2 separate regions of the Homo sapiens genome follow, and region 1 is linked to region 2. The links come from fine-mapping of genetic effects on gene expression. A gene starts in region 2. The other region holds a variant in brackets. All regions are shown on one strand. Distances are between the middles of the regions. Region 1 has its middle 130 kb from the start of TMEM47. Region 2 holds the start of TMEM47 (transmembrane protein 47).

What was found. PIP is the estimated chance that this variant, and not a neighbour inherited with it, causes the effect.
Region 1: its variant is fine-mapped to the expression of TMEM47 in tibial artery (GTEx, PIP above 0.99).

The regions. Positions count from the first base shown.
Region 1 is chrX:34,787,822-34,793,205 of GRCh38, forward strand. No RefSeq gene overlaps it. Among named protein-coding and RNA genes, the nearest start is that of TMEM47, 130 kb to the left of the region's middle. The variant A/G (reference allele first, on the strand shown) is at 2,731.
Region 2 is chrX:34,654,797-34,660,180 of GRCh38, forward strand. It overlaps TMEM47 (transmembrane protein 47), which reads right to left and starts at 2,489. Exons shown (of 3, transcript NM_031442.4): 1 at 2,008-2,489. The coding sequence starts at 2,233.

The DNA of each region.
Region 1 (5,384 bases), 130 kb after region 2:
CCTAGATGGCATCTTCTTCCAATAGAAGACTGTTTTGTGTCCATCGAAAATCTGTCATTTAGTTTAGCTTCTAAACTTCTTCAATTATCTTTTGGATAACTTGCTGCAACTTCTGTTATACAGACAGCTTCTTTCCCTGAACTTCATGAACTGATTTCTGCTAGCTTCAAACATTTCTTTAGCATCTTCCTTACCTCTCTCAGCCTGCATAGAATTGAAGAGAGTTAGAGCCTTGGTCTGGATTATGCTTTGGCTTAAAGTAGCCTGGCTGGTTTGGTCCTCCATCCAAATCAATAAAGCTTTCTTCAATTCAGCAATAAAGCTGTTTGACTGTCTTGTCATTCATGTGTTCAGTGGAATAACACTTTTAATTTCTTTGAATATCTTTTCCTTTGCATTCATAACTTGGCTAATTGGCACAAGAGGCTTAGCTTTAGTCCATCTCTGCTTCAACATGCCTTCCTTACTAAGCTTAATCATTCCTAGCTTATGATTTGTAGTGAGAGAGATGTATACCTCTTTTTTTTTCTTTCTTTTTTTTTTTTTTTTTTTACGGAGTTTCACTCTTGTTACCCAGGCTGGAGTGCAATGGCACGATCTCAGCTCACTGCAGCCTCCACCTCCCAGGTTCAAGCGATTCTCCTGCCTCAGCCTCCCAAGTAGCTGGGATTACAGGCATGCACCAACACACTCAGCTAATTTTTTTGTGTTTTCATTAGAGACAGGGTTTCACCATGTTGATCAGGCTTGTCTCAAACTCCTGACCTCAAGTGATCCACCTGCCTCGGCCTCCCAAAGTGCTGGGATTACAGGTGTGAGCTACTGTGCCTGGCTGATGTGTGCCTCTTCCTTACACTTGAACACTTAGAGGCCATTGTAGTGCTATTAATTAGCCTAATTTCAATATTTTTGTGTCTCAGAGAACAGGGAGGCCCAAAGAGAGAGAGAGAGATGGAAGAATGGCTAGTTTGTGAAGCAATCAGAACACATACATTTATTAATTTTGTCGTCTTATATTGATGCAGTTTGTGGCACCCCAAAACAATTACAATAGTAACATCAAAGATCATAGATCACTATAACAGATTTAATGATAATGAAAAAGCTTCAAATATTGTGAGAATCACTGAAATGTGACCCAGAGGCAAGGAGTGAGCACATACTACTGAAAAAATGGTATCCATAGACTTGCTCGATACTGGGTTGCCAGAAACATTTAATTTGTAAAATACTCAGTATCAGTAAAGCAAAATAAAGCCAAGCACAATAAAATGCAGTATGCTTGTGTCTTGTTCCTCCTTTCCACTTGAAACCTTATCAGAATACTCTTTACTGTTCATATTTCCATGAGCATTCTGGTCATGCACACTTAAGTCATATCTAAGTGGCCAGAGGCTTTCTTTACAGTTATTCTCTTCTTCCAAGTTCTCACCAGAATCACCCTTAATGCTTCATTAACGGTAATACAAGCTTTATCTAGCATTCACTTCAAAACTCTGCCAACCTTTACCTATGAGCCAGTTCCAAAGAAGACTCCACATTTTTAGTTATTTGCTATAGCAACCACCTAACTCCTCTGGTACTAATTTCTTAGTCAGTGACATGGTTTGGATTTGGATCCCTGCCCAAATCTCATGTTGAATTGTAATCTCCAATGTTAGAGGAAGGGCCTGGTGAGAGATCATTGGATCGTGGGGGAGGATTTCACCCTTACTGTACTTATGACAGTAAGTTTTCACAAGATCTGGTTGTTTAAAAGTTTGTAGCATCTCCCCCTGCTCTCTCTTCCCCCTTCTCCAGCCATGTAGGATGTGCCTGCTTCCCCTTCACCTTCTGTCATGATTGTAAGTTTCCTGAGGCCTCCCCAGCCATGCTTCCAGCACAGCCTGTAGAACTGTAAGTCAGTTAAACTTCTTTCATTTATAAATTAACCAGTCTCAGATAGTTCTTTATAGCAATGTGAGAATGGACTAATACAGTCAGGGTTCTCCAGAGAGAGAGAATAAATAGGTAATAGATAGATGAGATTGGGGGAATTGGCTGACAAAATTTTGGAAGCTAAGAAGTGCCACTTTAGGCTGTCTGTAACCTGGAGATCCAGGGAAGGTCATAGCGAGGTTCATCCCAAGTCCAAAAGCCTCAGAATCAGTGAAGTCAATGCTGTAACTCTCAGTCAGAAGCTGAAGGGTTGAGGGCCTGGAGCTTCCTCTGGTGTAAGTTCCGGAGTCCAAAAGCCAAAGGACCTGGAGTTCTGGTGTTTGAGGGCAGGAGAAGAAGAGTGCCCAGCTCCAGAAGAGAGAGTAAGAATTTGCCCTCTCTTTGTCTTTTTGTTTCATCTGGGACCCCAGCCAATTGGATTATCCCCATCTACATTGAGGGTAGATATTCCCCATTTAGTCCACTGACTCACATGTCAATGTCCTCCAGAAATATCCTCAGAGATGTTTTACCAGCTATCTAGGTAGTCATTAATCCAGTTGTGTTGACATCTAAAATTATCTATCACAGAGCATAAAAGTGCAATTTAGAATTTTTAAAAAACAGTCAGTACAGAGCTCCCTAAAAAGAATGTTACTAATAAGGTCTCATATGAGCAAAAATGGAAAAGACATAAAGGACTTAGTAATGTGTTTATCTGAGGGCAGAGAGTTTCAGAGAGTGAGGTTTGCCAGTTTAAGTGCCCTAAGGTCGAAGCTTTCCTGCAAATTTTCCTAAAATAGCAAGGAATCC[A/G]TTGAAGTTGGAGTAGACTGAGTGAGGAGAAGATTGAAAAGGTCAGGGAACTAAAATATCAGCGAACTAATGATAGGGATCATGAGGATGGGTGGGGATGCCTATGGTTTAGGGAGGTACACCATAACTTTCAGTACTTTCACAGACCATTGAAGTCCCATTGTTTTCTAGCAGATGTTACTTAAATAATGTGCATTTTTTTGCACATTATTTGCTAAGGCTTTACTAAGGACTTGGCATCTTACTCTGAGAGAAATGTGAAGCCAATTGAAGGATTTTGATTGGAGGAGAGAGATAACCTAATTTATGGTGAAGAGGTTTTATATATGTATGTATGTGTACATATTTTTCATATGTCCCCAAGCTAGTGAAATCACTGAGAAATGGATCTGTGTTTGATTTAATTTTTTGCATTGTCTTCATCACCTAGCCCTCTGCCTTTTATAGCATTGTGACTGAATAGTTACCAATTGCTTATTAATTGATTTTGAAACTTAAAAATAGGATTTATATATTTTATAAGAAATGTATCTTGACATATAAAACTTGGCCGTGCTCAAAAAGTAAGAATTTTAGTTTTAAGTATCATAGCTACCTATTCACTTTTACAGAGGTAATGACTTTCAATACTTTCATAGACCTTTAAAGTGTCATTGTTTTATAGAAGGTGTTACTTAAATAATATGCATTTTTTCACTTTAAAAACAAAGATGTATAATCTGAACTGCTGTGCAGACAAAGTCAGTCAGGCTGCTGGGTGCCTAAATGTCCCAATAGCAATTTACTTCCCTTCCATGTGATGACAATTGGAGCTTAATATTCTCCAACTAATGGAGAAAAATAAAATGATTCTTGTTCCTGTGTAGTGATTAGACCCCCTTAAAGCCTGTACCTGAAAAGGAACTAGCTGGTGATGATCTTCCTTACCTCTAGTGTACTCATTTCACTGATGTCCACTCAGTAGCATGTATTCACTGAAATACAAATTTATGCTATTACATCATGTAAATTATTTAATATTATGACAGAACATATTAGTGATCAATGCACATGACTTCTTTGCAATTCTAGCTTTGCTTGGGCTTTGACCTAATGAGAGAGAGATACCATGATAAGGAAGACTAGATGTTACCTAGGGCACTCGAACCATGTGGCTACTCCCTGAATACATCTAAATGCTTTTGGTCTAAAAATGGTAATCTAGAGTTCACAAATTCAGAATTCCCCAGAAAATTAAACTTCCCCCTATAAACTAGCTCCACGTTCACTTTCACTTGTTTCTCTCTCTATTTTGCATCCTTGCTAGATTGAATTTCTATTTATTTTGAACTTTAGGCCTTCAATGCAGCCCAGTAAATTGGGAAGGACTTTGGAAATCAGGGCTTCCTGCGTTCTATATTCAGCCCTGAGACTGAGGAGTTAAAATATTTCTGAAAAGTTTTTGACCCCTTTGAACCTCAGATTGGTTGCCCGTAAAATGAAGATGAAGAAACAGTTGTCAGAAACATAAAATAATATAGCTGTATGTAAATTATATACATAATATGTACATATGTAATATTGAAAGTACATACATGAACATATCATGTGATATAAATTATATATATATGTTTTTGTTGTGTCAGTTCCATACTTTACCTTCATATCTACTATTTTTAAAATCTCTCCCATATAATAGGTTTTTGTTAAATGATAGTCCCATACATTGTCTTTAAATCATGCAAATACGTAACCTTGAAATTGTAGTTACCATATGGTATATGCTGGGAATCTAGTGCATTGCTTACAAATTTCTGAAGATTTTGACAGATGAATAGGTAAAAATTATTAGGGTAGAGAGCATTTGTAAATTAACATAGTGTTTTAGGACGTGGACAATATTTTCAAAATTATCTTATCTGATACTATGTTTTCCTTTTTTTAACTTTTAGGTTCAGTGGTCCATGTGCAGGTTTGTTATATAGGTAAATTGTGTGCCATGGGAGCTTGGTTTATAGATTATTTCACCACTCAGTTAATAAGCATAGTGCCCAAGAGGTAGTTTTTCAATCCTCCTCTTCCTTTTCCTCCCTCAAGTAGGCCCCAGTATCTGTTGTTCCCTTCCATTGTACTCAATGTTTAGCTCCCACTAAGAAATGAGACCACGGAGTATTTGGTTTCCTGTTCCTGCATTAGTTCACTTAGGACAATGGCCTCCAGCTCCATCCGTGTTGCTGCAAAGGACAAGATCTCACTCTTTTTTTTTTTGACTCTGTACTATTCCATGGTATATATGTACTATATTTTATTTATCCAGTCTACCAACATTTAGGTTGATTCCATGTTTTTGCTATTGTGAATAGTGCTGTGATGAACATATGTGTGCATGTGTCTTTATGATAGAATGATTTATACTCCATTGGGTATATACCCAATGGTGATAAAGTGGTGTTGTTTTTTTTTTTAATTTACCCTTTTCCTCCATATGTTTTCTGGGAGAAAGAAGATATTACAAAATTAGCTGCTTAGTCATAGAAGTCTTGGCTATAAACTGCTTGTTTATAAAGTCTGAGTTCGAAACTTCTCTAGTTAGAACAGTAGATATCTTTGGGTATACACCCAGTAATGGGATTGCTGGGTCGAATGGTAATTCTACTTTTAGTTCTTTGAGAAAT
Region 2 (5,384 bases):
GCTGAAAACTATTTTTTTAAGGCAAGATAAGATGAAAGCTGATTTTCAGAAATCCAAATAGAAATATACGCTGGGCTATGACTTTCAGCAAGGGGGTAGAATAAACAGGGAAAAATCCCAAACTGGGCCTGCCTTTGATTTTTACTTTGCAGAGTGCTATTACCGCTATATTTGCATTAGGCTTGCGTCTCCATATTTCCTTGACTAGAGAGGAAAAAAGCTGAGATAAATGGGTATGGAGGCAATTAAGAAAAGGTTAGCAAACACTGTATGTTGCTCTGCAAACTCGAGCTGGCTTCTCCCCATTCCCTACATTCCTGGCCAAGAAAAAAGGGTACTGGCTTGAAAAGCAAATGTGAGTTGAAACTGGTTTCTCTAACCTATCTGAAAAGTCTTTATGCAATCAGGGGTCTATTATTTCAGGAGACAGAGAGAAAGGGGCAAAACATTCACGTTGCCAAGGAGTCGTGCAGTAGCTGTCATTCCTACATAAATTTTATTATTGAAGAGGGGAAAGGAGATATTTTCGCCAAAGTTTATTTGGATCCCCTGGTTACCGAAGAAAGAAATTCTGCCGATTTATTTTATCTTTAGTTGTAAACTGCCAACCCTGAAAGAATTGAAGGACCTAAATGTTGACCTCCTGCTGCCAACCAGTTCCCTCCACAGTGAATTAACCAACAAAGAGGAAACCCTTCAATGGGAATTTTGAGGTAGTATCAAAGAAAAAGCCTTTTTTAAACACAAAATTAAATTTACAGAAGAAACTTGGTCAAATTTTCCTGTGTTATAACAGGAAACCAAAGACAAAAGAAAATCAGATTTTTGTGGCTTTTTGTGCTATTTCAACTTTGTTACAACTTGAAACGTTTCCAGGAAAGCTTTATAAATAGTCCCAGAGAAGACATGAAACTGGAAGGAATGTAATGAGTTTCTCAGGTGTCTATGTGTGTGTGTGTGAGTCTGTGTATGTGTGTGTGAGAGAGAGAGAGAGAAAGAGAGAGAAAGAAAGAAAATCGCCGGCAGGTCCTCTCTCTTTATTTCCCTTTCTCTTCGCTGACACCAGCAGTTGAAGAATCAAAATTAGAAAGGAAGGGGTTTGTAGCGAGAAATCATAAGTTGACTGATTTTTGCTAAGGGCATAACTGGGGCGCCGGGGAAGGCAACTGGAGGGTCAGGGAGGGCGGAAAGCAGTAAAGCCCCCTGGGACTGGTAGCCTCAGTAGCTACCTTATTCTCCACTCCCCACCCCCATCTTATCCATTTGCAGCTTTCAGCGCTGGCGGAATAAAGCACAACTTTCTAGGCATCTGTGAGTAGCTCATGGAGAAAAGAAAGGTCTGGAGGAGAGAAGAGTTACTTAGAGTGGCAGAGAAAGAAAGGCAACTCACAATCAACGGCGGCGTCACCAAAAAAGGAAAGGAAAACAAGCCTGTCCCTCTCTCAACTCTTCATATCCATCAAAAACGTAAGGAAATAAAATCCAAACCGAAATACATTGGTGAAAACGCAGATAAGGTGGAGTGGAACCGGCAGAAATGTGAACACTAGGCAAATTCGTCCTCGAGAGAGGAAGGAAAAAGAGTGGGGAAGACCGAACAGCGAACCCCCGCAGCATCTCGGTGGAGTTGGGGCGTTTTTGCCTGCTTCTTTTTTAACGGGGGTGTGGAAGGCGTCGCATTTTTTTACACAGCCACATGGCTCTCGCCTCAAATGATAACAAATACCCAAAATAGCGTACGTGTTACTCCAGAACAGGAGGAATGGCCACGGGGAAGGGAGAGGGCGTGGGCTGTCGCTTTAGGTTTGGCGACCAGGGATGGGGAGGGAAGAGGGGTGGATGCCAGGGAGGTGGCGGGAGCCCCAGGATCCGAGAAGGGCCTGGACGGGGTGGGACGGGCCAGGGCAGAGGATGCGGGGACGTGGGGACAGGCGGTGACTGTCCTGGCAGTGGGGCGCGGGGCAGTCCGGGGCGGGAGGCAGGGGTCGCGGCGCGCCAGGCCCTCACCGCTGCTGAGCGTGGACTCGCAGTGCCAGATGTCCAAGCTGGCGGGTTTCCGGCAGGACTCCCACAACGACAGGTAGTACTGGTGGTCAGCTGTGACCCAGGCCGGGCTCAGCACCGCCCCCAGGTCCAGACACAGCGCCAGGAAGATGCACACCAGCCCGACCAGCTTCAAGGGGGTCAGCACCGACACGCGCACCTCCTCCATGCCGCTGCCCGCCGAAGCCATTCCTGGGCGCCGCTGTCGTCCGCCCCGCCGCAGGCGAGGACGCCAGGCGGGTCCGGAGAGCCGGGAGCCGGACCTCCCGAAGGGAGAAGCCGCCGAGCTGCCACGCGCGGGGACTCGCTCCCTCGGGGCTCTGCGCGCCCCCTGCCGCGCGGCCAAGGTGGGTCTGCGGAGGCGGCCGGCCGGGTGTGGGTCGTCGGCAGCCGCAGCGACGTCGATTCCACCCCGGACCTTCGCCGCCGGCCCCGCGCCGCGCTCTGCCAGCGCCCGCGCCCGCTCCTCCCGGCTCGGCCGGGCTCGCTCCGCCCCGGCCCCTCCCCGGGCTGCGGGAGGCGGTGCCGTACGGGGAGGGGCGGAGGGCCAGCACTTGGTGGCTTCGGCTCCAGTTCCCAGTGCCGGAGGCTCGCGCCTGTCCCGCCCCTACCCCGCCTCTGGCCCGCGGGCGGAGCCCAGTGCCAGCCCGCGCCCCCGATTCGCAGCGCGCGGCAGTTCCTTGAAGCAGCCCCGCGCCCAGCCCGGCCCTCGCCGGGCCCCCAGCCTCGCTGGCTCCAGGTCGCCGGGCTCTCCCCTTTCGCCCAGTCACGTGGGTTTCCTTTTCTTAGGGAGCAGGAGTGGGCGGTTTTCTAGAAGGCGCCAGAGGTGGATTCCTAGGTTTCCTAAGCTGTGCCTCTTGGAGCAAGGACAGGTCCTCTGTCTCTCAGTGATGTAACACGCCCCTCCCCGGACAATTTCACATCCTGAGAGATTTGCGGGACGGAGGAGAAAAGTGACTAAATGCATTTTGCCCTCTTTTCAAAACCAGACGGGCCCAGGAGTCCCCCGGTTTTCCCTGTTTTCTCACTTCTCCGCTAGCCTGCTGCCGCTTCTGTTCTCTGGGCTCACCTGCTTTTGCGCCCCCCTATGAAGGGCATTTGCTCTGAAAACGCAGGCGCTAAAAAGGAAATGAGAGCTCCTGCGAAATATGAAGTAAGTCTTATTTCCATCTCCACTGCTCTGCCCTTTGGGTGTTGGCTAAAACCTTTATTAATTCCGCTTTGCATTATGCCAAGCTGGATCTAATTCCCCTCCTGGGTATTAGGATGTCCTTGTCCTTAGCAAGATCTAGCCCAGGACCTGCAATAGGAAAAGTGATGTGTATATTTCCTGAATGGTAAACTAAGCAGTCTACAAATATTTGTTGAGCATCTAAGGGCTAAGGATTCAACACAATAGGACATCGTCCTGTTCTTAAGTAGATGCACCATATTTTCTCCCTTATGTGAGGACTAAACACCTCTTGAAATTGAAATTGAAATTTTGTAATTGCCTGGTTCAGCATGTGATTGGTGGGTTATCTGTCTCTTGTAGCTCTTTGACTCATCTCCATCTTTTCTATAAAATAAATAATTTATTGAATACATTAATGAGGAGGGGCGATGTTTCTAGATCTTTAGTCATCCCAAAAACTTGGTGAGACTCCCAAAACAGTGGTTAAGAGCTGAAGAATGCAAGAAACATGTTCTCTCTTCTATGAAACACAATCCTCAATGTTGCAAGATTTCATACTTTTGGTTGATAAAAATTATTTTTCCCCAACCACATCTTTCCATAGGTTGAACACATGTTGACTGCAGCAACATTTTGGGCTAAGAAACAATCGAGTTAGTGTCAAATGAGAACAAACCTAATGTAAAATAAACGCCCGGGCTTTTCTTATATTTACAATTTCGGGAACTTTTCTCCCACCTCTCAATCATTACCGTGCTAATTATTGCAGGACCCTTAACAAAGAATGCCTAGAGCATCCAGAGCTCACTAACCTCCAAATCCCAAAGGGCTTCTTGGCTTCTCAACTAGAAAGAAGCCTAAGTGCATATTCTCCTTAAAAAATTAGGGAACACTGAAAAATTTACAAACCGGGACAATTAAGAGGTGACCAGGATTGTGTGACTGTTCTTTTATCTAGATTTATAATGTGTATTCAAAAGTAATAAGAAAATGTCTTGAGTGTGCTCTCAAAGATATAAAGAAATCTTTATTTTGCCTCCAACTTCTATCATCTTCTCTTTAATAAGTTTATTTTCCAATTAGCCAATAGTTTTCTTTATTCTCTTCAATGCAGGCTTTCTTTCCCCTCTACCCCTACCCCAACCCCCACCTCCACCCACATTTTTGCTTAATTTTTTTCTGGCTTGTTCTCAACTGCTTGCTTGAGTTACTCCATCCTTCTTTATACTATCTAAAAAAATTGTCTCTATACTGTCTCCAAAACTAGAAAAGTAAACAATTTTTAACAAAAAGCCAAATTTTCCTTAAAAAACTCTATTCCTCTATTAATAATTTATAGAATTTTGCACAACATAGGCCCATCAACCATCCCTAATCCTCAATTTCAAAATACAACAAACTCTCAAAAGTATTTTTTTTCTTTTCATATATTTGTAGCAAACTCAGGGGCACAGGGACACTTCCTCTCCAACTGCTGAAGGTTCACTGGAAATGAACTGAGAAAAGGCAGATTAATTGGAGAAAAAAAATGCATGTAAAACTTATTTTATGTGCACAGGGAAAAAAATCACAGGAGTGTGATTACCCAATAACACAATGAGGTCCAGATGCTTATATACCCTTCTTCACTGAAAGAGAGATGAGGGGTGTAGGAGTAAATGATTGCCAGGGGAAACTGGGCCCAAAGAACATGGCCTGAAACAAAGTTTTTCTGAGCTCTGGGGAAGGTGGCAGTAAGGTGAGGGGCGGAATGTCACTGTGAACAAAGGTTGTCTTGTTATGCAGATTGAGCCTCCCAGGTAATTTCTGAACTGCCCTGGAAGGAATAGATGAAAAGTCAGTCCTGACATAGTGAGAACTCCCAGTCTCTTCTGGGTGGTTGATCTTTCCTGGTTATTTGATGAGATTTCAAGGGAAGGGGTCTTAAGATAATTGCATTTTTTTGGAAAGGAGTTTTCTTAGTTATATAAGGAAATTCCAGAGGGAATTCCTCCTGGTGCTTCAGGAAGCAAAGAGAGTCAGAGAGACAGAGAGGCAGGGAAAAGTCAGAGAGAGTCCTTGAGGCTGATTCTTGAGTTCAGTATGTCAAAGCACCATATTTGGGGGTTTTGTTTTATCATCCAAAAGACCACCAGGATGGCTAAATACTAGAAAGAAGAGCTTTATT